Regions from separate parts of the Homo sapiens genome. Here all the other regions are reported to be linked to region 2. Evidence: microRNA targets listed by miRTarBase, many of them from high-throughput screens and not tested one by one. Region 2 holds a microRNA gene; each other region holds the end of a gene's coding sequence.

Region 1 (3,000 bases), not on the chromosome of region 2:
TACAGAAATTATTTGGAATTCTGCATGGGAGATTTGTTTCTTCTCCCCCATGTATTCAATCATTTATATCAGTGTGGACCATTGTTATTTTATCCTTTGTTATACTACAGTACTAATTTTTTTTTCAAATTGTTCTCATTTTGGCCACTGGGAATTTGAGTGGTTCCTTGTGCTCCTTTGACATACACCCAGTGTATATACCAGCTTATTTGGGTTTGAGTGCCTCTTTCCTTTCTGACACTACAGGATACTCCGGGCTCATCTTGTATTTCCTGCCCCAGTCCTAGAATCCTATTTTCTACGAGGAACCCTGATTCCTTTCATTGTAAAATGGCATTAGAAACTGGCTGGGCATGGTGGCTCATGCCTGTAATCCAGCATTTTGGGAGGCTGAGGCAGGTGCATCACCTGAGGTCAGGAGTTTGGGACCAGCCTGACCAATATGGTGAAACCCCATCTCTACTGAAAATACAAAAAAATTAGCTAGGCATGGTTGCGTGTGCCTGTAGTCTCAGCTACATGGGAGGCTGAAACAGGAGAATTCCTTGAACTTGGGAGGTGGAGGTTGCAGTGAGCCGAGATCGCACCACTGCACTCCAGCCTGGGTGACAGAGCGAGACTTCGTATCAAAAAAAAAAAAAAAAAAAAAAAAGAGAAACCAAGGTCTGGGTGCTAGGTGTGCTTCTTGCTATTGAGATGTCATTTCTTTCAGTCTCAGCTGACAGAAAAAAATGTGTGTATATACTGTTAAACACACACATATCTATAAATATTTTTATAGGTAAACATCTGTACCTATATTAAGCTAAACATGAGCTCGTGCTGACATCTCCAACTCTAATCCATTACACAGATCATTGGAGCCTCCTCCCCTTGTTTATCTGTGAATTCCCACCCCAACAGTGAGAGAACCAGCTCCCTCCATCTGGCAGCCACTTTTAAGCTGGATAAAAGATTACTCATTTTCTAGCAAAGGGAACTCTGGCAAGTGAGAACTGTTGACCATCCACTTATTTGCCTGTTCATCCCATAAACACGTGTTGCGTTGCTGTGTGCCAGATGTGCTAGGCCTTTAGTATTCATCTTGGGTTACCCCTGCACATCGCTGGGACCTGTAAATGTTTGTTGAAATATCCTGAAAATATTTTTTAAGTTTCGACTTTTTCGTATTGGATTTAAAATACTTTTGTGCACCTGTTACAAGCCAAACACTATAGGGATCATTCATAGTTTTGAGGACTGCCTATCTGTCAGATTATGGGCTATGCCCTGGGGATTCAAATTTAAAAATTAGGCACACATGGTTCCTGCCTTCACTGACCATATTCAAGTGGAGGAAAAAAAAAAATCTCCATTTTACAGATGAGAAAACTGAGGCTAAGAGTGAAAAGGATCTGTCCAAGGACACAAGTAGTAAGCTGCGAGGTGGGCTCAGATCTGACTCCTGGGCCAAACCACTGTAACCACAATACCTGCTCTAAATCCACCCAGAAGTCAGCCAATCTGCTCTTTCCTCTTTTGGACCCCTGTGGATGCCTCAGGAAAAATGAGGGCACAGGTAAGAAGGTACTTGACAGCAGGTTGCAGCATGTCTATGCTGCAGTGGTCCAATCATAGCTCACTGTTTGAAATAAATGAGAAAATCCATCTCAGTAATTCAGTTTTACATTTAGGCTACCCAAACCATGGGCTTTAAAAACATTACCTGATGCTGGTATAAGAAACATAATACAAACAATAAGGTTGGATTCATTTTGAAATTTAATAATTCTAATAGTAATAAGAAACATAGTTTATGCTTTTTTTTTAATGAAAACAAACAAGTAATTTTGTAAAAGTCAGAAAACACCAGTATCCTTCTGATCTCATCCTGGATTTTTCTGTCAGCTGGAGGATGCATTTCTGACCCCATCCCAGACACGTGAAAGCAGAAGACATGATGCATCTATAATAATGAAAGCACAATCTAAAGAGTATTATCACACCGTGAACAGCTTCTTCCTGACCCAGAGCAAATATTAAGAGAAAGACAATATATTTACAAACAAGATTTAATAATGCTCACAAGAATAGAGTTTGCCCCCAAATGGAAAATTACACATTATTTTGTTTCAAAAAGTTATAAATTTAGTGCTTGAAAAATCCAGCAGGTAAGTAGAAGGACTAACAGGGTCTGTTTCTGGAACTGTCCGCCAGCAAATGAGCATGCTCTGTCCTGGAAGCCATTTTTCTTTTTCTTTTTTTTTTTTTTTTTTTTTTTTGAGACAGAGTTTTTTGCTCGTTGCCCAGGCTGGAGTACAAAGGTGCAATCTCGGCTCACCACAACCTCCGCCTCTTGGGTTCAAGCAATTCTCCTGCCTCAGCCTCCTGAGCAGCTGGGATTACAGGCATGTGCCACCACGCCTGGCTAACTTTTCTGTATTTTCAGTAGAGACTGGGTTTCTCCATGTTGGTCAGGCTGGTCTCAAACTCCCGACCTCAGGTGATCCGCCCACCTCGGCCTCCCAAAGTGCTGGGATTACAGGCAGGAGCCACCACGCCCGGCCAGGAAGCCATTTTTCATGGGAGGGATATAGGGAGAGGAAGGCGATATTTACATCCCACTCTGCACAACTCAGTACCGCCTATTCATTTTCTTGAACTTCTCATAATGATAGTCATCAGTTGCCTTCTCGTTAGCAGGACGCTTGCGGTTAGGAGGGGACCCTGAGAAGGAAAAGAACAGGAAAGGTGGTTTGCCATGCTGGAACCCACTGCTAGACTTTACTCCATGCAGGCAAAGACAACTGCCTGTTTCCTTCCCCACAGGAGCCCCAGCGCCTAACCCAGTGAACACAGTAGGGCCTCAGTAGATACGTATTTGTCTTTTTTTTTTTCTTTTCTTTTCTTTTTTTTGAGATGGAGTCTCACCCTGTTGCCCAGGCTAGAGTGTAATGGCATGATCTCAGCTCACTGCAACCTCCAACTCCCGAGTTCAAGTGATTCTCCTGCCTCAGCCTC
Region 2 (4,500 bases):
ACAGCATCAGCTTCTGCTTTTTCCCTAGAAACTCTCCCACCTGCGACAACTGATTCTAAGGCGGTGACCCAGCGCTGTTTGTCAGGGAAGCTGGGAGCTAGCAAGTAGAGGGTTCTCCCGGGCCAGCAGGTGGTGTGCGGGTGAGATTCCATCTTCAGTATGTATGGGACATCTAGGAGATTTCAGAGAGCACAGGATTGGGTGTGGATTTCCCCCGTTCCCACTGGGAGGGACGGGCCTGAGAGATCAAAGATGCCCACCAAACCACGCAAATCCCAGTTACCGCCAAGGCGGGGAGCGGAGGAAGATGGGCCTCCTTTGCAGAGCCAATCTTCCCTGTACCACCCCTTCTGTCCCTGCTGATTGGCCAAGCCCGGCCCACCTCCAGGGCGGGGCTCCTCCGGCTCCTCCTCACCTGCTTTGGCTGTATTTGCGAGTTCGGAAGCACCAACGGCACCATGAATAGATACATCCCCGTCGGGAAGGCACAGCTCAAATTCTTCCACCGGCCTCTGTCCAGCTTGGTGCAAAGAGGAAGGGCAGAAAGAAAAACAAAAGAACAGGAACAAGAACAAGGGGAGAAGAGAGAGCGAGAGAGACAGCAAGGGAGAGAGAGACAGGGTACGTGTGTAAAGAGAGGCGCACGAGAACAAGGAAGGGACAGAGGTGTGCAGAGAAGGCAGAGAGGGAAGATAAAAAAAAATAAAGTGTGTCAGATGAGTAGCACAGTCAAATTTCTGATGACGATGCGGATTTATGGGTTAGTTGACTGAGGCAGAAGTTCTCGGAAGGTGTATTAGCAGGTGGAATCTTCAGGGCAGCGCCCTGCGGGTTCTTCAGGGGGGAGACCTATAGATGTGAGTATCGCACCAATAACCTTTAGAGAAGTCATTTGGTTTGTAAGTTTCAAAAATGGAAAAGCGTAGAAGGCTTGCAAGGCAGTCCAAAAAACAAAGCCTTCGCGCCAGCACTGGGGAGACCTGGGTTAGCCACGTGCAATGACCTTCCCCCTGAATTATTAATTTACCTTCTCTGGCTTCATTGTCATAAATGAGGACTTTTGATCCCTCCAGGACAATGTACTTCCTGTCCCAGCCTTGCTGTCCTCGTTTGTTATTCCTGGGGAAAGAAAGATGGAAAAGAAAAATGTCTGAACTCAGAAGAAACATCCGGCTGGAGGATAGGATGAGGGGGTGGCAGAGTTCCTAGAAAAGACACTTCCCTAGAAAACATCAGGGACAGAGTGGCTTGTGCCAGCACCTGCTCCAGCCCAAGCCACCCTGACATGGTACCTGGGCACCTTCATCCACCCTTCCAGGTGCAAGCTGCTGCTGGGCTCCTTGGTCTGGAGACCTGGGGAGTTCATTTTGTCACGGCAGAAGGCCTCGGTGAAGTGTGTGGCATATTCAGCAGGCAAGCCGCAGGTGGCTGGCAAGCACGTGGAGCACTTGGGGTGACACATCACCTGACATTCTAGGGAAGAACAGTGAGCAACCTGAGGGCATGCTCAGCTGACCCTGGACCCTTCCCTTCCTCTGCCAGCCAACGCCTGGGCTTCTCTACCCCAGCCGGGCCCAGAGAGTCTGGCCCTGGCTTGCAGGTAGTCTCCTGAGCTTCCCCTGGTGCCAGGCCCCTGCAGAAAGGGAAAACAAAAGTGCCAAGTGCTCTTGACCCAGTTTTCCAGGCTTCAATCCAGACCGCCCACAAACAGGTGTGTAAAGAACACGTTTGCATGTTTCAGTTGGAGTCAGCGGAAAGGTAGGGAGAGACCAGCCTGACAAAAAGGGGCTGGAAATTAGCAAAGCCTAAGGCACTCTGAGCAGCAGGCTGGAGTCATGAGCTGCAGACATATATAAACTCACAGCTTCAACAGGGGAAAAATAGCATCCTCCTACTGAAGTAAGAAGCTCGAAAATGAATGCACTATATGATGAGTTAGAAAAAAATCACCTCCACCTGATAGACTTTTTAAGCTGGAGATGCACAGGTGCCCAGCACAGATGCACAACTACTGATCTTACCGAGACATTTGGATGCCTGGCGTCCAAAGTGCACGGTATCCAGACACACAGCACACTTTGTGGCTCGCATGTTCAGTCCTACGTTGAATCGGTGAGGAATATTGTGGTGCATGCGTTCCTTAAGACGCCGACTAAATTCTGGAGGAAAATGTTTTAAAAAATCATTAGAGTACTGCAAATGATCCCATCAGGAAAGTGAAAAGACAACCCACAGAAAGGGAAAAAATACTTGCAAATCAAATCTCTGATAAGGGACTCATATCTAGAATACATAAAGAACTCTTACAACTCAATAATAAAAGGACAACCCAATTTTAAAATGGGCCAAGAATTTAAATAGACACCTCCCCGAAGAGGATAAATGGCCAACGAGCAAATGAAAAGATGCTCAACATTATCAGTCGTTAGAGAGATGTGAATCAAAACCCCAAGCAGACACCACTTCACAACCACTAGGATGTCTACAGTCTAAAAAAAGGAAGATAAGTGTTGATGAGGATGTGGAGAAACTGGAACCCTCACACATTCCTGGTGAGAATGTAAAAATGGTGCAGCCACTTTGGAACTCAGTCTGGTAGTTCTGTAAAAGGTTAAACATAGTTACCCCAGAACCCAGCAATTCCGCTCCTGGCTATATATCCAAGGGGACTGAAAACATATGTACCCACAAAAATCTGTACATAAATGTTCACAGCAGCATAATTTATGACAACTACAAAGTGAAAACAACACAAATGTCCACCAATGGTGATATGGTTTGGCTGTGTCCCCACCCAAATCTCATCTTGAATTGCAGCTGCCATAATTCCCATGTGTTGGGAGGGACTTGGTGGGAGATAACTGAATCATGCGGGTGGTTTCCCCCATACTGTTCTTGTGGTAGTGAATAAGATCTGATAGTTTTATAAGGGGAAACCCCTCTCGCTTGGTTCTTATTCTCTTTTGTCACCGCCACATGAGACATGCCTTTTGCCTTCCACCATGATTGTGAGGCCTCCCCAGCCACATGGAACTGTGAGTCTATTACACCTCTTTTTCTTTATAAATTACCCAGTCTTGGGCATGTCTTTATCAGCAGTGTGAAAATGGACTAATGAAAATGGATTAATGGATAATCAGATGTGCCATCTACACAATGGAGTATTATTCAGCCATGAAAGGAATGAAGTTCTGATACATGCTACAACATGGGTGAACCTTGAAAACATTACATTCCATGAAAGAAGCCAGACACAAAGGCCGCATGCAGTATGATTCATCTTTATGAAATGTCTAAGAGAGCAGATCGACAGAGACAGAAAGTAGATTGGTGGTTGCTAAGAAGAACATTAGTGGAAGGAGAATGGCGGGGGACTGATAATGTGTATGGAGTATTTTTTGGGTGGGGGGGTGTCAAAATTGTTCAAAAATTAGAATGTGATGAGGGTTACACAACCCTGTAAACTTACTGAAAAAGACTGAATTGTACATTTTTAATGAGCGAACTGTACGGTATGCAAATTACATCTGAATGAAACTGTTAAAACCATTAGAACAGGTTAGTTACAGATTTTGAAAGTATTAACACTAACAGATGCATCTAGATTTATAAGACTCAACTTAAAATCTCCATTATCCAGTGATTAGGAATCAGGCTTTAAGAACATGTTACTGGTAGGAGATTGACTGACTATACGGTAGGCTCTCCTTACAACATCACCCCCCTTCCTTTCTTGGAAAGGTGCAAGGAATAAATAACAGGAATGCACTTTGAAACTGTGTGGTGCAGTATACACAAAGGAGCAATATACTGTAGTACTATCACTATTCAGGGACATTTCAGTGGACACCACAGCCAGAAGCAATGCTTTCCTCTATCTTGTCATCACCATTTTAATGAGTTTAAAAGTAAAGCTCTTGGGCTGGGCACAGTGGCTCAAACCTGTAATGCCAGCACTCTGGGAGGCCAAGGCAAGTGGATCGCTTGAGGTCAGGAGTTCAAGACCAGCCTGGCCAACATGGTGAAACCCTATCTCTACTAAAAATAAAAATATTAGCCAGGCATGGTGGCGCATGCCTATAATCCCAGCTACTCAGGAAGCTGAGGCATGAGAATCGCTTGAGCCTGGGAGGCAGAGGTTGCAGTGAGCCAAGATCACACCACTGCTCTCCAAGCCTGGGCGACAGAGCGAGACTCTGTCTCAAAAAAAAAAAAAAAAAAAAAAAAAAAAAAAAAAAAGTAAAGCTCTTTGATTCAAGGAGTTATATAAACACAGGAGGAAGAAAATGACTTCAGGCTAAAGAAAAACAACAGCAACAAGAAAACACCATCTGGTTTACAACCAAAACAGGTTTGATTGCAATGCCATGATTGCTAAACCACAGCTCTACCCTAGTGTTCCTAAGACATTCCAAACAGCTTCCTTGGCCTTTTCTTAAGTCCTTTTAATCTCTAGGTAAATGGAGTACATTTGAGACCAGCAAGAAAACTCCTCACACT
Region 3 (3,000 bases), not on the chromosome of region 2:
ATGAGGAAAGGACCTTCTGGCACAAGATCTCGTATTGCCCTTGCCTCGTTCTCTTCTATCCAGTGCTCATCATGGCCATGGCTTCTTCCCTCGGCCTCTACGCTGCTGTGGTCCAGCTCTCGTGGTCCTGGGAAGCATGGTGGCAAGCTGCCCGGGACATGGAGAAAGGCTTCTGTGGCTGGCTCTGCAGCAAGCTGGGTCTGGAGGACTGTTCTCCCTACAGCATTGTGGAGTTGCTTGAATCCGACAATATCTCAAGCACTCTCTCCAACAAGGACCCCATCCAAGAAGTAGAAACCTCCACGGTCTAAACTCCCAACAACTTACTCCCTCCTCTGGCCCCAGTAGCCTATATATCATCTTAAAATTCCAGCAGATTATTTCTTTAAATTACCCCCTACTCTCCGCAGTTCTTCTGGGAAATCAGAGTCCATACTGATCAGTTTTACCATCTTGAGGGTTCCAGGAGGGCATGGAGCAGACAAGCAATTGTGCCAAAGCAGTTCACCCAATGGACAAACTCTTTTTGATTCCCTGCCCTAAAATCACCATTTATTTAGGACAATGGAACTCTGCTGTGTGTCGTTTTGGGAGCCTGGAAGTGTTACTGGTGCCTGGAACTGAGGGGAGTATGTGACTAAATGTGTCAGGGAGAATAAAGAACCTCGGGGTAACCAAATCCACCAAGATAATAGACAGGGATGGAGTGAGACATTTAGGAAGCTGGACTACCACAGTGTAGCAGAAGGTAAAGATTTGTGTGTATCATTTAGATTTAGATTTAGCTGCATAGAATTAAAACCCTAAAATATCAGTGGCTTAAACAAGATAGAAGTGTATTTCTTTCTTGTGCAGAAGAAGTCTGGAGGCAGACCATCCTGGGACCCTGTGAAGTAATCCAGGTCCCAGGCTTCTTCTATTTCTCTACCATTAGTAGGATGTGACCCTTCTCACCCTTATCCCCAACATCCCAGTGCTGATTACATCTTCAGCCATCACATCCATGTTTCTGATAAAATAGAGGAAAGGGCAGAGAAGCACACACCCTTCCTGTTCAAGGAGACTTCCCAGAAGTCCCACTCGATTCTTCTTATATCTCATTGGCAAGACCTCAGTCACATGATGTCATGAGCAAAAGAGGCTGGAAATGTAGTTGTTTGGCTGGGTAGCTATATTCTCAGCTAAATACTGGGTTCACGCTAATTGGCAAGAAAAAGGAAGAATGGTTATTTGGGTTTTGTTTTGTTTTGTTTTGTTTCGCTTTAGAGACGGAGTCTCACTCTGTTGCCGAGGCTGGAGTGCAGTGGCACTATCTCGGCTCACTGCAACCTTCGCCTCCTGGGTTCAAGCAATTCTTGTGCCTTGGCCTCCCCAGTAGCTGGGATTACAGGTGCGTGCCACCATACCCGGCTAATTTTTGTATTTTTTTTTTAGTAGAGATGGGGTTTCACCATGTGCCCAGGCTGGTCTTGAACTCCTGACCTCAGGTGATCCGCCTGCCTCGGCCTCCCAAAATGCTGGGATTGTAGGCAAGAATGGTTATCTTGGTAGGCAAGTCAGAATCTTTGCCTCACAATGATCATTTAAATACATTCAGAACCCCCAAACTGCTAATATGGTTTTATTTATTTATTTATTCATTCATTTGTTTATTCATTTATTTATTTAGGCCTGAATCTTACACAGAGAATTTATATATAGATATTAGCTACATATACTTTGAATATGCTATACATCGATATTAGCACCTCACGTACTTTGCAATTAAGCTTCTGTAATGTCATGTGATTTGTTTTTGGAAAGGAATAGTGGACAGGAGAGTACAATTTATAATAGTAGCATAACTCTTTGTCCTGGTGGTGGAGGTGGGACGAGGTGGTGATATTTAACCTAGATTAAAGACCAGGAAGGGAGGAATTGCATCTGCCAAAGTTTCCTCCAACAGCGATCAGTAGCCCTAAGTACAAAGAAGCCAGATTTAGCCTTCTGTTGTTTGGCAAAACCTCACTCAGAGCTTTACTCCCTCAGACCTTTCTGAGTTTAACCACAGACATGATCTTTGCTGTGCTGAGAAACTTGTGTCTACCTGGCCTGTAGGGAGTGTAAACTAGATTAATACAGATTAACAGACTCTGAACTTAAAAAAAAAAATCACTCCTAAGGGTGTCCTTCTAATTTCAAAATATCAACTCCTAAGAGGTCAGCAGAATTTGGAGATTTGGGTCCTTATAAGAATAGCTGGTGCTCTTTTCTTGTTCATGTCTCAAAACAAAGCTGTTGAGAGAACTGCTGCGATGAATCAAACCAGAGGAGTTTGTCATGCTCCCCACAGAGAGCCCAGGACATTTGCCTGATGTATGGTGCTGAGCTCCACCTTCAGAGGAACTCTCTCTTTTTTTTTTTTTTAAATAACTATTATTAGCTTGACAAGAAAAAAAAAGTGCCCAACAGTTTTAGTGTTAATCTTGGTGCTCTATGGTGCATTAGCAGAGATATGAACAATTAAATGAAGACAAAGAAAATAAAAATAAAGTCTGATTAACTTTTGCTCATTTTGTCTTTGAGGCTCTTCAAAATTGCTTTGAATGCTATGGTTTGCAGAAAAAGGGTGAGCATGATGGCTGTCCTATATGTATGTAATGATTTTAATATGAATCCTTGTGTCTGGACTCTTTCCATGCTTCACTAATTTTGGGGAATTCTATTTAGGTGGACTGTTTTCACAAACCACACTAGAAACTTGCAACCACATTTGTCCCATTTTTCTGGGGTTGGGGAAACCAATGGGAAAAGCCAAAAAGTTGTGATTAGGACACAGGTAAAGTGGCTGTGGTGCCATGGAAGAGTGTGGGATGATGATGAGATCATACCCAAGAGATACCTAGATAAAGTTGACATGGCCTTCATCCTAGTTGGGCTCATCATCTAGTGGAAGAAATAGGCTTGTAAATTAAAACCATTTCAAAGGGGTTCTATAGAGGTATGTAAAAGCCTAGACTA
Region 4 (3,000 bases), not on the chromosome of region 2:
CCTCAATGGGGATGGCACCGTAGACTTTGACGGTGAGTCTCCTTCCCGGAAAACCCTCCCGTGCTTCCAGGGCCTAGGCTGAGCCCAGCACCTCCTGGGATCCCTGACGTGGACTGACCCAAGCCCTGCCCTTCTCTCCCGCAGAGTTTGTGATGATGCTCTCCCGCCACTGAGGCTCCAGGAGGGAATATCTGTTGCCCCTGCGGCCCCAGACACCAGCCAGACCCAGGCTGCAGGCCTCCCCCAGGAGCCTCCAGGATGGAGATGGAGACCCAGCAGCCCCCAGACTACTTCTATCCCTGAAAACACCTGGCCTCAATGTTGGCTTGTTATGTTACCTGCCCACCCTCATCCTTACCTCCTCCTACTCAAGCTGCCTGGAGAAGACCTGCTCTCAGCTGCCCACCGTTCCTCAGTGTGAGCAAGATTTGGGTCTCTCCAGACCTCTGGGAGGTAGGGAGTTCCCTGGCACTGGCAGCATTCAGTGGGGACCCCCCAGTGGCATGATGAATGGAGAGGATGGCTGGACCCCTTCCACTACTTATGTTTATAATTTTTTTTTTTTTTAATGAACTTGAGCCGGGTGCAGTGGCTCACACCTGTAAGCCCAGCTGTCAGGGGGCAGAAGCGGGAGGATAGCTTGAGCCCAGGAGTGCAAGACCTGCCTGGGCAATATACTGAGACCCCATTCTCCACAAAAAGGAAAAATAAAAGACAAAAAAACAAACAAAAAACCAAAAAACCCAAGTGTAAAAAAAGTGAGCTTGAAAGAAAGAAAGGGATGGCTCCATGTATCAAAGACAAAGAAATCAAAGCTGGGGTTGTAAGAGGGAGCTGACGCTGTGGGGGTTTCAGATCTGGATGGAGGCTTGGCCGCCTGGACTCCTACAACCATGAGTGACAGAAGAACCATATGAGTCTGGGGAGCAAGAAACAAACCCCCCGGATATATTCCAGGGTCTCCAAAGGCTAAGATATTAATCTGTCTGCACTGACCAGTCATAGAAAGTGGCAAGGATACAGATGTTCAGGGCCCAGAGTGGAAACAGCTGCCCTAAAGAGCCTGGAACTCCAGGGCCTGCCCTTCAAGCAGGCGTGTAGTCTCTCTCCAGGGTGTGAAAAACTGGAAAAAAACCCTGCCGCTCCCAAAGGGGAACTTGTGATAAAAATTACAGATTATTGGGCTGGGAGTGGTGGCTCACGCCTGTAATCCCAGCACTTTGGGAGGCTGAGGCGGGTGAATTACCTGAGGTCAGGAGTTTGAGGCCAGCCTGACCAACATGGTGAAACCCCATCTCTACTAAAAATACAAAAATTAACTGGGCGAGGTAGCATGCACCTGTAATCTCAGCTACTCGGAGGTTGAGGCAGGAGAATCGCTTGAGCCCGGGAGGTGGAGCTGCAGTGAGCTGAGATCACACCATTGCACCCCAGCCTGAGCAACAGATCGAGACTCCGTCTCAAAAACAAAACAAAAAAACCATACTGATTATAAAAGTAAAGAAACCACCATGAAGGAGACGAGACAGAGACAAAAACAAGAGGACTGGCATCTCAGTGTACATAATACAGCCGCCTAAGAGACCACAAGATACATGCAAATAAAAGACGGCTAAAAGGGGAAGAGAGATCAACATGCAGTAACAGGATAGTATGAAGAGAGAACCGGAAGATTTAAAAAGTAACCCAACAGGCCAGGCGCATGGCTCATGCCTGGAATCCCAGCACTTTGGGAGGCCAAGGTGGGTGGGTTGCTTGAGCTCAGGAATTCGAGACCAGCCTGGGCAACATGGTGAAACCCTGTCTCTACTAAAAATACAAAAATTAGCCAGGCGTGGTGGTGCTTGCATCTGTGGTCCCAGGTATTCTACAGGCTGAGGTGGGAGGATCACTTGAGCCCAGGAGGCAGAGGTTGCAGTGAGTCGAGATCGCACCACTGCACTCCAGCGTGGGTAACAGAGTGAGAATCCGTCAAAAAGAAAAAAACAAACCATGGCTTCTGTTAAAAAAATAAAGTATATTTTATATATACACACACACACACACACACACACACAGCCATTGGAATGAAAAAATAATGGATAAGCTAAACAGCAGATTAAACACAATTTAAAGATTAATGAACTGGAAGCTATATCTAAGAAATCACTTATAATGTAACACTGAGAGACAAAAGGATGGAAAATATTACAGGGTAGTTAAAAGTCACTGGAAGGCTGGGTGTGGTGGCTCACGCCTGTAATCCCAGCACTTTGGGAGGCTGAGACGGGCGGGTCACAGGGTCAGGAGATCGAGACCATCCTGGCTAACACAGTGAAACCCCATCTCTACTAAAAATACAAAAAAAAATTAGCTGGGCGTGGTGGCGGGCGCCTGTAGTCCCAGCTACTAGGGAGGCTGAGGCAAGAGAATGGCGTGAACCCAGGAGGCGGAGCTTGCAGTGAGCCGAGATTGCACCACTGCACTCCAGCCTGGGCTACAGAGCGAGACTCCGTCTCGGAAAAAAAAAAAAAAAAAGGTCACTGGAAGACTGGGTGTGGTGGCTTATGCCTGTAATCCCAGCATTTTGGGAGGCTAAGGCAGGAGGATCACTTGAGGCCAGGAGTTTGAGACCAGCCTAACAGCAAGACCCTGCCTCTTAAAAAAAATAATAAAAAAATAAGCTGGGTGTAGTGGCTCATGCTTGTAGTTCCAGCTATTCAGGAGGCTGAGGTGAGAGGATCATTTGAGCCCAGGAGTTGGAGGCTGCAGTGATCGTGCCACTGCACTCCAGCCTTGGTGACAGAGCAAGAGACCCTGTCTCAAAGAAAAAGACAGATAAGTCCTTGGGAGTCTCAGACGGAGGACATACATAGAGAATGAACAAGAAGCAATAACCAAAGAGATAATGGCTGAAAATTTTCCATAAAGACTTCCACAGACTTCAACTCCCCAGATTGAAGGAACAAACTGAAGTCAGAGTAGGGTAAATAAAAATAAATATATATCTGGATATATCCC

What was found. Region 2 holds the annotated microRNA hsa-miR-1178-3p (UUGCUCACUGUUCUUCCCUAG, at 1,474-1,494, opposite strand). A microRNA usually pairs through its seed, bases 2 to 8, with sites in the 3' UTR of a target mRNA and lowers its output. Matches are read on the target gene's strand: a 7mer-m8 pairs with bases 2 to 8, a 7mer-A1 pairs with bases 2 to 7 and ends in A, and an 8mer does both.
Region 1: the mRNA of C9orf78 is a reported target of hsa-miR-1178-3p. Seed matches in the 3' UTR shown: 7mer-m8 at 2,059-2,065.
Region 3: miRTarBase lists TMEM169 as a target of hsa-miR-1178-3p. Seed matches in the 3' UTR shown: 7mer-A1 at 1,129-1,135.
Region 4: miRTarBase lists CABP4 as a target of hsa-miR-1178-3p. Seed matches in the 3' UTR shown: 8mer at 418-425 and 7mer-A1 at 1,437-1,443.

The regions. Positions count from the first base shown.
Region 1 is chr9:129,825,547-129,828,546 of GRCh38, forward strand. It overlaps C9orf78 (chromosome 9 open reading frame 78), which reads right to left. Exons shown (of 9, transcript NM_016520.3): 9 at 1,744-2,706. The coding sequence ends at 2,615. Among named protein-coding and RNA genes, the nearest start is that of TOR1A, 2.9 kb to the left of the region's middle. RefSeq lists a silencer at 2,504-2,798.
Region 2 is chr12:119,712,176-119,716,675 of GRCh38, forward strand. MIR1178 (microRNA 1178) reads right to left here and starts at 1,549; the gene lies at 1,459-1,549. It overlaps CIT (citron rho-interacting serine/threonine kinase), which reads right to left. Exons shown (of 48, transcript NM_001206999.2): 33 at 2,022-2,159; 34 at 1,293-1,473; 35 at 1,028-1,119; 36 at 416-520; 37 at 3-172.
Region 3 is chr2:216,100,232-216,103,231 of GRCh38, forward strand. TMEM169 (transmembrane protein 169) reads left to right here. Exons shown (of 3, transcript NM_001142311.2): 3 at 1-2,552. The coding sequence ends at 311. Among named protein-coding and RNA genes, the nearest start is that of XRCC5, 7.6 kb to the right of the region's middle.
Region 4 is chr11:67,458,487-67,461,486 of GRCh38, forward strand. It overlaps CABP4 (calcium binding protein 4), which reads left to right. Exons shown (of 6, transcript NM_145200.5): 5 at 1-32; 6 at 145-3,000. The coding sequence ends at 173. Among named protein-coding and RNA genes, the nearest start is that of CABP4, 4.6 kb to the left of the region's middle. RefSeq lists enhancers at 1,436-1,485, 1,696-1,745.